Linked DNA regions of Homo sapiens. The protein of the gene in region 4 purifies or fractionates together with the protein of the main gene of each other region. This does not show direct contact. Each region holds a gene or a part of one and is shown on either strand. Other genes may lie near its edges.

Evidence for each region.
Region 1: the proteins of EIF4G3 (region 4) and NBEAL2 purify together in Homo sapiens (tandem affinity purification; one large-scale study listed by IntAct). This does not show direct contact.
Region 2: the proteins of EIF4G3 (region 4) and PPP1R2 fractionate together in Homo sapiens (co-fractionation; one large-scale study listed by BioGRID). This does not show direct contact.
Region 3: the proteins of EIF4G3 (region 4) and DDX42 fractionate together in Homo sapiens (co-fractionation; one large-scale study listed by BioGRID). This does not show direct contact.

The regions. Positions count from the first base shown.
Region 1 is NC_000003.12:46,982,666-46,986,165, reverse strand, and holds part of NBEAL2 (neurobeachin-like protein 2), read right to left. Parts: intron 1-3,500. UniProt on the Homo sapiens protein: Probably involved in thrombopoiesis. Plays a role in the development or secretion of alpha-granules, that contain several growth factors important for platelet biogenesis.
Region 2 is NC_000003.12:195,513,928-195,516,626, forward strand, and holds the end of PPP1R2 (protein phosphatase inhibitor 2), read right to left. Parts: 3' UTR 501-2,699; downstream 1-500. UniProt on the Homo sapiens protein: Inhibitor of protein-phosphatase 1.
Region 3 is NC_000017.11:63,812,170-63,815,669, reverse strand, and holds part of DDX42 (ATP-dependent RNA helicase DDX42), read right to left. Parts: coding exon 3,462-3,500; intron 2,443-3,461; coding exon 2,216-2,442; intron 108-2,215; coding exon 1-107. UniProt on the Homo sapiens protein: ATP-dependent RNA helicase that binds to partially double-stranded RNAs (dsRNAs) in order to unwind RNA secondary structures. Unwinding is promoted in the presence of single-strand binding proteins.
Region 4 is NC_000001.11:20,862,398-20,865,897, forward strand, and holds part of EIF4G3 (eukaryotic translation initiation factor 4 gamma 3), read right to left. Parts: intron 2,866-3,500; coding exon 2,719-2,865; intron 2,316-2,718; coding exon 2,079-2,315; intron 1-2,078. UniProt on the Homo sapiens protein: Component of the protein complex eIF4F, which is involved in the recognition of the mRNA cap, ATP-dependent unwinding of 5'-terminal secondary structure and recruitment of mRNA to the ribosome. Functional homolog of EIF4G1.

The DNA of each region.
Region 1 (3,500 bases), on a different chromosome or scaffold from region 4:
AGACAGCCTTCAGGGGCTCTGAAAGGGGATGACGAGGTCTCCAAAGCACAGTATTAGGCAGGGGTGGGGTGGCTGCCTGTCCTGCCTCCCTGGGTCTCACTGTTTCTCCCTGGAAGACCTCAGGCCAACTCTGACCTAGGCCCCATGGCTTGAGACTGCAATGTGTCGGGGTACGGGAGTCCCTCAGGGAGCCAGGGTCAGAGGGCAGAGAATGGCAGGGGACGAGAGCATGGTGGCAGTGCTGCATGTGAGGGTCCAGGGCCTGGGAGGAGTGGCCATGATGCTCAGGCTTCCCATGCCCCTCTCAGAGCTTCTGCCTTGGTCGGTTGTGCCAGCTCTGAGCAGGAACACGGGTCAGGGACAGTCCAGCCCCTTGCCCCAACCTAACTGGGTCAGGGCCCCAACCCTGTCCCCCACTGAAGGCAGGTCGGGAGCAGCCACACCTGCCAAGCCCTCTCCAGGGTCCATAGGTAAGTGATGCCCAGGTCCTGCAGCAGGGGAGAAGGTTGTGGGAATGTGGAAGGCCGGTGTCCCTGGGAAGAGGGGGTCTCATGTGCACCACCACAGAGACCCCAACTTATGCCCAACTAGCTGTGAGGGCACTTGAGAGTGCTGGGGGTGAGGGGCTCCCGAGGGCTGCTTAGGCTCAAACAGTCCCTGGGTGGGCATGGAACTGCCACTCCTCTGGAATTCTGAAGTAACCTGGAGGGCTGAGGGCTGGTGGTTGTGACATTGGTGGGGAGTACAGGGAGTACACCTTGTTTGCCAAGCTGACAGGGATCATTGAGCTGCCTGACACCATGCTGCTCCCAGACCCTGCCTGACGTACCCCAAGGCCATTGCACAATGGGCCTCGAGTAGACATCTGTCACCATCACGGCTTGATCAGCCAGTCACATGCCCTATCACAAGCTCACATCTGAGGCCCTGTAGGGTGGTGCCCACCTCACCTGCAGCCTCCATACCCCAAACCCGCTGGATGCCTGGGCCCAAGGGCGTGAATCACTGTCTCTACCCCCACAGGTCTGCCTGTGCTTTGCTCTTGTTTGCTCTGCTGGAATGCCCCCATCAGGGGCATCAGCACCCTTTGTAAGACCCATTCCTGTCTGGTGCCTCTCACCAACCGAATCAGGTGAGGGCATGGGTTCCGGAGTCCAGTCCCCGTTCTAACTCTCAGTAGCTTGTTACTTAACATTAACCTCTTTAAAACCATCCCTTTGCTTCTTGGGTAAAAGTTCTCCAGCCACACCTACCCAACTCGAGGTCAGGGTAAGGTGAGTGGAGTTCCAGATCCAGGGGCTCTGGCCTGCCCGAGCTCCCTGAATTCCAGGCAACAACCCCCAGCCCCCTCTGTGAGTGACAGTAAGAGGCATTAATGGACCCCAGGGAAGAGCTAGGAGCAGGAAGGGAGAGAAGAGCACAGCTCAAGAGTGGGTGACTCCTCTCAGTCAGAGCTGCCTGGGCGGTAGTGAGCACTCCATCTTCAGGGACAGACAAGCAGAAGTGGGACAGGGTGGTGTTTATGTGGAATAGCCTATCCCAGGCCTAGGGGGTCCCCCCATTCAGTATCAGGACGGGGAGGACAATGTCAAGCTAAACGTGACTTCTGGCTACATCACCAGGACTGGAGGTCAGGCTTGGAGGATGTTAGGCCATGGGATGAAGCAGGAAGATGGGACTTTGCTGGGGCAGGGACAACTGAGGATAGTGGTTTGAGTGCCTGGGTGGCTGGGCCAGTCTCTCCCACTTACCTGGAGAGGGGGTGCTGAAAGGGTGGACCTTCTGATCTCCATGACACCCACCCTGCCCCAGGGCCTGACCATCCCCTTGTACTATTGTTTTTTTTGTTTTTTTTTGAGACGGAGTCTCGCTCTGTCGCCGGCCCAGGCTGGAGTGCAGTGGCGCGATCTCAACTCACTGCAAGCTCCGCCTCCCAGGTTCACACCATTCTCCTGCCTCAGCCTCCTGAGTAGCTGGGACTACAGGCACTCGCCATCACGCCTGGCTAATTTTTTTTTTTTTTTTTTTTAGTAGAGATGGGGTTTCACTGTGTTAGCCAGGATGGTCTTGATCTCCTGACCTCGTGATCTGCCCGCCTCAGCCTCCCAAAGTGCTGGGATTACAGGCGTGAAACACCGCGCCTGGACACTATTTTTTTTTAAGCAAGGAAAGCATAGATTTATTGAAATGAAAGTACACTCCACAGAATGGAAGTAGGTTCAAGCAAGCGGCTCAAGAGCTGACCAATCCCTTTTACTATCACTAAGGAAAATGGGAATTTCCTTCTAGGGTCCCCATAGACCCCATGGTAACTGACCCTGTTTCTACGGGGACCCCACACTTCCCCATCAGCTCCCCAGTTGTCATAACAACTCCAGGAATCACCAGTGCCCACCCAAGCCTGGGCTGTGTGCTCATCTCCCTATCACTACAGGCCCTTCTCCTTCAGGTGCCTTGGTAATAGAGGCAGGGGACCAAGCACCAAAGAAGTGACTCCACCTTCCCTTTACCCATTTCAGGAAGGTAAACTGAAGCCCAAAAAGGATATGACCAGATAAAGCCAGGTGCGGTGGCTCACGCTTGTAATCCCAGCACTTTGGGAGGCTGAGGCGGGCAGATCACAAGGTCAGGAGTTTGAGAGCAGCCTAGCCAACATAGTGAAACCCCGTCTCTACTAAAAATACAAAAATTAGCCGGGTGTGGTGGCACACGCCTGTAGTCTGAGCTACTCGGGAGGCTGAGGTAGGAGAACTGCTTGAACCCGGGAGGCAGAGGTTGCAGTGAACTGAGACCATGCCATTGCACTCCAGCCTGGGTGACAGAGTGAGACTCTGTCTAAAAAAAAAAAAAAAAAGGAATATGACCAGGTAAAGTACCGGGGGAGTGGAGGGCCTGACCAGGTTTCTGAGAGGCAGTAGAGATCATCAGTTAGGGAGAGGGAACTCTCAGGGAAGTGTAGGCAGGACGAGGTTGCCTCCAGCCTGACCTAACCTCCCTGAACCCTTCTGAGGCCTCAGTGGCATAGCTGGACAGGTCAGCTTCTGCTCCCTCCTGTCACCTGAGGGTTTGTTCTGCCCTGAACTTTGTGACCCTGAGTGCCCTTCCACATTCAGTGCCCCCTCACTCTGTGACCCCATTCACTGGAGGGGTTGCTGAACATCACTGCTGCTCCGGCCTGAACAGGGGCCACTCATCTGCATGCTATGTGGCATTAACTTTTATGGGCTGCCCAACCGCCAGCCTGTCAGGTGCTGTCCCCAGTCCCCCAAGACTCTCCTGCCCTTCCTATGCCTACCCTGGGGGAGCTCTGGTGGGCTCTGAGTCCTCTAGATGAGCCCCCACCTGTCCACCAGGCCTGCTTGACTAGCTCTGCCCTGCCCCAACTCCTGACAATTTGCTTCTTGTCCCACTGCTCCTGCTGTTTCTTCCTCTCAGCCTTCAAAGCCCAAACTCAGCCTCCTCTGGGGTGACTTCCTGACTGGTCACTGCCATGGGACCCA
Region 2 (2,699 bases), on a different chromosome or scaffold from region 4:
TAGATGGCACACAAACTGCAAACAAAATTAAGTTATTTCCAATTTTTCAGATTTTAAAAAACCCCAGAAGCTCAAACACCTGAAAAATGCTACTCCTAAAGCATAGTTATGGATCAATAATCCATATACATTTATTTGTAAGGTACAATTTCTAAAATGTTTTCTACATCAAAAAATGTATGAATAAAGACCATGAAATTTAGTTAGGTTTGGATTTAAATCCTATCATTTAGCATGTGTGAGGCACTGAAATGATTAATAAATAAGTTGACCAAGAGCACTTTCCTCACTTACAAAGTGTAGATAAGAATGCTTGCCTTTGTGTGGTGGTTTTGAGGGTTAGATGTAAGGGACTGAGCACAATGCTACTAAGACTGAGGAAACTACTCGGCCACAGCGTAATCCATGATCCACTCCTGGTATCCAGGGCAAGTGGTCGATGGATTATGGTCTTGAGATAGCTAAGTAACAATAAAATAAAATCCACACACAGGCAATTGTCATATTATTGTATTTTATTACAGTACGTGTAGTGTATACTAACTGAAAGGGAAAAATGTAAACAAAACCAAAGTCATGGGGAAAATGGCATCTTGCTTTAATCTTCAACTGAAAGTTACCTTAACAATCCATTTACACCATTATGTCAAATTTTAGTCATCTCTGCAGAATTTTAGACAAATGAAAACAGACAAGGTAACACCAAATAGTTAAGCACAGAAAGTGATACTGATTAAAAAGTTGAAAGTAAAATCTACCTTGGCTAGAACTGAACATTCAGATCTGTCTCTCCAGAGGAAAATCTAACTTGAATCATAATGGTTCATATTTTGACTAGTTCATACCCTATCAATTACCTACTTATGACTTGAACATACCTTTTCTCAGCTGCATGTGACAGCCTAAAACCCCACTGAGCATGCTGCTTGGCATGCCTTACTCCTCTGAAATCATCATCTACTTTCTAAAAACCAGAAAATGAGTTTGTGATTTAAATTTCAAAAAATAGTTTGTAGAAAACACAAAAAGAATCAACTGTTTAAAGTCTTATCCTTTTCTTCACTCTATGACAGCTACTTCTACAAAAAAAAAAAAAGAGTATGTGGGTACTTTCTAAGAACTCAGAAACAAGAAAACCAAAATCAGAGGGTGCATGAATATATGTGCACGCACATGTACAGACTTAATCTCTACATCCCCCAAGACAGATTTAAACAGGTAATCCCAACATTTTAAATTCAGAAACCAGAGACAAACAGTTTTGTTTCTAAATCAGTGGTATTCCTAGCTGAAATGTTTAGAATACTGCACTCACAGTTCAGCAGTACTTTGATTATATATCTCATTCAAAAAATCAAAATAATGGCCACATTCTTCTAACAGCAAGGAATTCTCCCACTTTTTATTTATTTTCAAATACTGCTGTTTCCATAAACCTGCAAGTGGAAGATAAGCTGTTCAATAAAAGCCTTCTTTCATATATGTATCTATATATAAAATATACAGACGTTATTTTAGAAGTCTGTTCATATAACAGATTATTTTGGTACTAACAAAAGTTGTACACAATTCATCAATTGTATGGCTAGAAATGAAACCATAACTAAACCAAGACACACAGGGCTTTCCTGCACTTGGTTGAAGGAAAAAATTCCACCTAATTCTTACTGCGTTAGAAGAATAAAGCACGTTTGTCATAGTACACATTATCGTAGTCCCTTAAAGCAGGGACTATTTAACAATGTCCAGGCTTACTTCTGTCTGTACATTCAGGAATAATCATATCACTGGTTACATACAATTCTCATGCAAAGAAAACCCTCAAAAAACAAACAAAAAAAACCCTCAGTTAGTTGTTTTCTTAAGTCTAATTAATCCAAACTAATAATAGCCATTTAATTAGCAATCTGTAAATCAGAGAGGTATAGAAATTCAGCAGCTAAACTGTATTTCCCACCTATAGCACTGCTGCTACTCAAACTATTTTCTTCACGTATTAGAAGAATTCATAGGCATTGATGGTCAAAATAAGAATTTCAACATAGCAGCAAATGACAGAAGAGTGAGAGAAAGAGCTCCTAATGTGGTGACAGTCTTAATGATCCTTTAAAAGGTAGAAGATTGTGTGCGTATGTGTGGAAAGGAGTAGGAAAGAAAAGCAGGAGGTTAAGACAGGTATTTAAAGGGAATGGCGAGATAGCTACATTAGAATATTTATTTTTTTAAAAAACTGCTCTGAAGTCTGCCCAGTGTACCAAAAACATTAAAAAACAAAAACAAACAAAAACCCCCCAAAAACAAAAAACAGAGCAGACATTGGTGAAAGTTTAACCTGATAATTTATTTGTGGGGAAAAAAGCTAGTTTTGATGAGAAAAAGTTCAGTCCTTTCCTTGTAAACACAAAGAAACTCAACAGGAATTTTAAAAATAGTAGGTCAGAAAATGCAACAGTAACTCTTATAATTCTTTTCAATTAAACAGACAAATCAAGTTGAAGACAAGTGTTAAAATACTATTCAGCCTAAATATTTATCAGTCTATATATCCTGTTGTTCAATTGGCTTTTGATTTTTAAAAAAATCAAATCAATAAACTTTGTAAGAGCTACCACATTTCAAGTGATGAAAATAAATTAGTTCCCCCCCAAAGATATTGTTTAACTTCTAAAGCATAAAAAGCTCTATAATATCTTATACAA
Region 3 (3,500 bases), on a different chromosome or scaffold from region 4:
TTCTCAGAGCCCAGGCCAGGCCGCTCCCTGTAGCCTAGGCCTCCTCCACCAATGTTCAGCTTTTTTCCTTTCCCTCCTTTGAATCGAGATTTCCGAAACCAGGCATTCTGCATTGAACAAAATTCAAGGTTAAGTCAAGGGAGGGAGAAAAGAACAGAAGAAGAGAACGAGGACAAAGAGGAAATTAAGTGGGAAGGGGGAACTTTTGCTTAATTTTCAGCCAGCACTACGCTAAGGGAGGAATTTTCACAGGAACCACAGATTGGTTTCTCTTTGGTAGCATAATCCACCAAATTTGAAAAGTGGCTGAGATCCTTATCTAAGGCTTCCTACAGTGCTCCCTCCCTCAAGGCTCTCCTGGAAGGGAAGTTGTTCAGGTAAGCTTCAAACCCAGAGGAGTAACTTTGGCTACTTCTAACTTCCTTGAGGAAAATGAGCTTATATTTTATTTCTCAAACCATGTATTATTGGACGTAAACATTTGGAACTTAAACAACTGGTATGTTCAGAAGCAAAGGAAAAATGCTATGTGAAGTGAGGCTTATCAGAACTGACTATAGGGACAGACTCCCAGAAAGGATGGTAGCCACACAACTGAAAATTTTATTTACCCGCAGAGCGTAAAAGTTTTCATTGAACTTGACCATTGCCACTCAACATATTTACTCACATTCTCTTAAGAATGCAGGGCGGTGGCTCACGCCTATGAATCCCAGCACTCTGGAGGCCGAGGTGGGCGGATCACTTGAGGCCAGGAGTCAAGACCAGCCTGACCAACATGGTGAAACCCCGTCCCTACTAAAAATACAAAAATTAGCCAGGCATGGTGGCACATGCCTCTAATCCCAGCTGCTTGGGAGGCTGAGGCAGGAGAACTGTTTGAACCGGAGACGCAGAGGTTGCAGTGAGCTGAGACTGCGCCACTGCACTCCAGCCTGGGTGATAGAGTGTGACTCCATCTCAGAAAAAAGAAAAAAAAAAAAAAAAAAAAAAAGCAAATGTCTCTGGGAAGGTTAAAGTTTTATCTGACAATCACATATTACCAGCAAAATAAAGTGCTTGAGAGGTAGGGCAGCAGGCTTGGACAAAGTCCTGAGCACAGAAAGCCTGAGGTACAAAAAGAAATGGAAGAAAATGCCAAAGTCAAAATGTGTCCTGTTTTAAAAGTTTATTTAGGACTAGCTCTCTGTGCTCAGGAGCAGGGGAGGAAACATTATTCTCTTCTCTCCTGCAGTGCAGGTCCTTTACTCCTAGGACCAGAAACTTGGGCACTGCCACATTGCAGCTGGGTTGTACCAGTTGTGTGAGCTGGCCTAGGCATTTGACAAACTCTTAACAGTTTCTGCTCTCAGAAAGTGTTCCGAACCCATTTGTAATTTGGGGACAGCATGGATTCAGATGACTCCAGGTTTGATTTGTTAGAATGCCTCACTTAGCTTTAGATTGGAGCACACCTGGAAGAGGGCAATCAGTGTGGTCAGAGGTCTGAGATCTCTGCAAGGAACAGTTAAGAGGCACCATACAGGCTGGGCACGGTGGCTCACGCCTGTAATCCTAGCACTTTGGGAGGTTGAGGCCGAGGCGGGCGGATCACCTGAGGTCAGGAGTTCGAGACCAGCCCGACCAACATGGCAAAACCCCATCTCTACTAAAATTACAAAAATTGGCCAGGCGTGGTGGTGGGCGCCTGTAATCACAACTGCTTGGGAGGCTAAGGCAGGAGAATTGCTTGAACCCAGGAGGCAGAGGTTGCAGTGAGCCGAGATCGTGCCATTGCACTGCAGCCTGGGCGATAGAGTGAGATTCTGTCTCAAAAAAAAAAGGTGGGGGGGCACTATACTATACACATATTGTTTTAAAGGCATCACACATTTTTAGCCTCCCAGAAGAAAAATTTTGTGGGGGAAGAGCAGTAAGGAGAATAGTAACCATCTTTGAGATTAAATTTACTCCTAAGTGTGCTATGGGGTAGAAATTACAGCGACAGATTTTAGCACAAAGGAATAGCTTTTCAAAACAGATGCTGTTGAAAGAAGAAGACCAGATAAGACTAGATGAATTTTAGTATCTCACAATTCCTATCTGTACCTCATAAGCCCCACATCCTCCTAGCCACCCAACTTTCTTGTCAAGTTTTTATGTTATCTGTTCCAGGACTGCTAAAATGTCTTGGTCTTATAACCAGGAGCAATTGAAAGTGTGCCCAGCCCCTCACCTGCATTGCCAGATCTAGGAGTTCCTTAGAAACGTGTTGATTGGCTCCTTCCAAGTTCCGGACCAGGTCACCAGCAAAATTGCTGTCCTTGGGAGTGAGTAGGGTATAGGCCACACCTTTCTCACCCGCTCTTCCTGTGCGGCCAATCCTATGCGTGTGGGTATCAATGTCTCGTGCCACATCATAGTTAATGACAGTCTTAATTGAAGGAATGTCCAGACCACGGGCTGAAATAAAAAGCAACCAAATTCTTTTATTCTTCATCTGTAGTCAGAAGATCAAAGTAACCAGAAATGCTAGTGCTAATAAGCCACATTTCCTTTATCTAGGCAAAGCGCATGGGTTTGGTGAGCTGAGATACAGGCATGTTAAGTCACCACCACAGATTCTATGATGTTAGGCCTTCTAGTGTAAGGGACTTTTATTTTTTAGAGACGGAGTCTTGCTCTGTTGCCAGACGGGAGTGCAGTGCCATGATCTCGGCTCACTGCAACCTCCGACTCCCTGGTTCAAGCAATTCTCCTGCCTCAGCTTTCCAAGTAGCTGGGATTATAGGCACGCGCCACCACACCCAGCTAATTTTTGTATTTTTAGTAGAGACGGGGTTTCACTATGTTGGCCAGGATGGTCTCGATCTCCTGACCTCAGGTGATCCGCCCGCCTCCACCTCCCAAAATGCTGGGATTACAGGTGTGAGCCACCGTGCCCGACTGGGACTTTTATCTTTTGCATCAGTAATCTGCCATGCCCTCTTCTCTTGCACTGGGAATATATATTTAAAATGTGTCATGAAGCTGAGAAGTTCTCTCCTTTCTAGGAAAAAATATCAGTGTTTAAGGGTAGTTATTAAAACTTGACAGAACAAATCCAGAAATTATATTCCAAAAACTGTTCTCATCCTGAGTTAAGTTGCCCAACTAAGCTGTGTATAGTAGATCAATGTAAGGGTAAGGTATCTACTATATTCAGACATACAATAAGGGCATTCACTGCCTTTTTTCCCAGAGTGACTTCTAGCTGCAGGGATTCTTTGATTAGAGAGAAATACTAAGTGAAAAGTGGTATCTAGAGCTCCAGACTGTGATCCCTGTGCTGAACTGCTGCTTCCTTGGGGGTTTGGGAGGGGATGGCCAGCCAGGCCAACAGTCTTTCCATCAGCCTGCTCAGATATTATAGGTCTTATGTAGTAAGACAGAGTACCCTTATAGCCTAGGAACTTAATGTTGTTGAAAAATTCATACTCTACCTGCAACATCTGTGGCCACCAGGACTGGGATGTCCTTTT
Region 4 (3,500 bases):
GTTATTTATTTATGTAGTTATCTATTTATTTTTTTAGAGATGGGGTTTCACTCCGTTGCCCAGGCTGGAGTGCAGTAGCACAATCACGGCTCACTGCAGCTTCAACCTCTCAGGCTCAACCGATCCCACCTCAGCCTCTCGAGTAGCTGGGACTACAGGCACGTGCCACCGTGCCTGGCTAATCTTTTAATTTTTTGTAGAGACAGGGTCTCATTATGTTGCTCAGGCTGGTCTTGAACTCCTGGGCTCAAGCAATCCTCCAGCCTTGGCCTCTCAACGTGCTGGAATTTCAGGCATTAGCCACTGCGTCCAGCCCATGTAGTTTTCTAAATGGTCTAGGAATATCAATTTATAGCCAAAATATAATGTGGTAGAATTTTTATTTGTATTTTTTTGAGACAGGGTCTTGTTCTGTCACCCAGTTGGGAGTGCAATGGCTCAATTATGCCTCATTGCAGCCTCAATCTCCTGGGCTTAAGTGATCCTCCTGCCTCAGCTTCCCAAGTAGCTGGGACCACAGACAGGCATATGCCACTACACCCAGCTAAATTTTTCTGTGTGTATGATTTTTTGGACATAGGAAATCTCACTATGTTACCCAGGCTGGTCTCAAACTGCTGAGCTCAAACAATCCTTCTGCCTCAGCCTCCCAAAGTATTAGGATTATAGGTGTGAGCCACTGTGCCCGGCCATATGGTAGAATTTTTAGTTGTTCATATGACCACCTAAAATAAAGACTACATTTTTCTAGGCTCCTGGCAGCTGGCTTTGGTCACGTGATTAATGATAGGCAATAATATAAATGGAAATGTTATGCTATAGCTTCCTAGGGCCTTCCTAAAGAGACCAGAGGGGCCAGGCATAGTGACTGATACCTGTAATCCTAGCAATTAGGGAGGCCAAGGCAAAAGGACTGCTTGAAGCCAGGAGTTTAAGACCAGCCTAGGCAACTAAGTGAGACCCATCATCTCTACAAAAAGTAAAAAAAAAAAAAAAAAAAAAAAATTGGGTGACAGGGCAAGACCCTGTTACCTTTTTTTTTTTTTTCCTTTTTTTTTTTTTTTCAGATGGAGTTTCACTCTTGTTGCCCAGCCTGGAGTGCGATGGCGCAATCTTGGCTCACTGCAACCTCTGCCTCCCGGGTTCAAGCAATTCTCCTGCCTCAGCCTCCCAAGTAGCTGGGATTACAGGCATGCGCCACCATGCCTGGCTAATTCTGTATTTTTAGTAGAGACGGGATTTCTCCATGTTGGTCAGGCTGGTCACGAACTCCTGACCTCAGGTGATCTGCCCGCCTCAGCCTCCCAAAGTGCTGGGATTACAAGCATGAGCCACCGTGCCCGGCTGACCCTGTTACTTAAAAAAAAAAAAGAGAGAGAGAGAGAGGTGGCTGTGTCTTTTGCCCCTTTTCCTACCTTCTCTGGTGAGAATAATTAGGACAAGGGTTAAACTTTAGGAGTCACAGAATGTTAAGCTGAAAGGACTTACCTCAGAGCTTTGTTTACATAAATAAGAAGTAAACCTCAATCTTGTATAAACCACTGGGTTTTCTGTCACAGCTAAGCATAATCCTAGCTGAATCAGATGTTATGGAGCGTTTCTGACATTATTTCTTTGAAGCATTTCTAATTTCTATACCCCTTAAATAGCATACATTATTACAGTATTTTTAATGATTTCTTATATTATGGTTAGATGGCTGTGTCATCAATTAGAGTATAAACTCTAGAAGCACTACTGGGTCTTCATTTCTGCACTACCCTTAGGCCATAGTTTTTCTTTGCATATTTCTGTTCCCAAATTGGGAAATGGTTACAGAAGAAGAAAAAAGAATATGGGACAAATAATCTGAAGAATCTACAAACTGGCTTTTACACAATTTGGGACCCTCCTCATCTCTGACTCTGATGGAAATGTAAGGAGCACGATGGTTGAACACTGACAATGAGACGGGCAAAAGAAGAAAAATAAACAGCCCAGACCTTTGGGAAAAGATAGAACTATTCTGTTGACAGTCTAAGTTCTTTTGCAACTGACAAGGAGCCTTTGCGAAGGTTTCTGAGCTTTTGGATTTTTACCTTTGCTTTTTCAAAGTCCAAGTCTTTGCCAATGGTGGTGAGCAGGCGACACAGGCACTCCAGGGATTCTTCATCATGGTTCTTTAGCAGCTTCACCACACAGTCATGCATGATGGCTTCAGTCAGCATTTTGAGTTTAAAGAGTTCTCCAATAAACTTGATGTTGCCAATGGATCTCCGCCGGGCTTTGTCCTTGGCTTCTTCCAGTTCATCATGAAGCCTTGTCCTCTCCTCTGGCTGTTGTGTAAGGAGGAATAATAGCATCTTGATGATGAAAGTTGTACTGCACAATAAACACTGAGATTCATGGGGTCAGAATCCCCGTGAGAATCTGATAGCAAGTGTAGAATCTACTGCTCAGAAAACTGAACTATACCCATCCATTTCAGATTTTTGGAACTCAGTGACCTGACTCAGGCTTAGATTGAATGGCTGGCATGGAAAATTTAGCTGTCCCCTATATTAGGCACTAAAAGGAACAAAGCATTCCCCTAAACATTAATATGTTGTTTCTACATGGAAAAAAAAAGGCCATAGGTCCCTCTTAAGGTAGCAGGGAGATGCTGTATCTAGCTTCCTGAAATTTCTACTTTACAGTGCTCAAAGTGTACAAGCACTGTCTTTCTATGAAAATACTTACAGCACTGGCAGCCTCAAGTTCTTTCTGCTTCTTCTCAAAGACATCATCATCTGCTTTATCTTTTTCAAACTCCTTCTGGCAACGGTTCAGTAGCAGCTTCCGGAAATTCACTGTGTTACCAGGCTTGTCTGCCATGGGTACTTTCAGCTACATCCAGACAGGAAAATAAAAAAAATCAACAAGATTACTTAAAGACATTAAAAATATCTGTTTGCTTTATTGTATGAAATAATGCTGACTGAACCACAGGTAAGCATTCTATAAGAGGCAAACAATATAGCTTCAGGCATTTCATGATTCAACAGTAATATGTCTTAAATTTTATTTAGAAAAGACACACATTCCTCTCATATAAATGTACTCTTTTTTAGCCATGCTACTAGCTAACATGGAAACCCTTGTCATATCATTGCAACTATAACTCTGAACTTATCTAGACCTTATTTAAAAAAAAAAAAAACTGTGTAGAGTTATTACTTCTTTTTTTAAGAAGTACCGTTGTAATAAGTATTTTGGTTTAATAGAACACACAAAAATGACATAAGACAAGGGAGAATTTGCTGGTTATCGCAAAACTGTTGTAGGTGAGATCCTTATTGTATTTATGCAGAAGTTGGGATACTGGGGGATTTTTGAGATATCTTTTCATTGGGGAATGTCATAATGTTAGCACTTACCTTGACTATAAATATAGTATGTTTACTGCTTATTGCTTATGTGCCATGAGAATATACTAGTTCTCCAAAAGTTTGGAAGCAAGATCCTTACAAGGTTTCCATCCA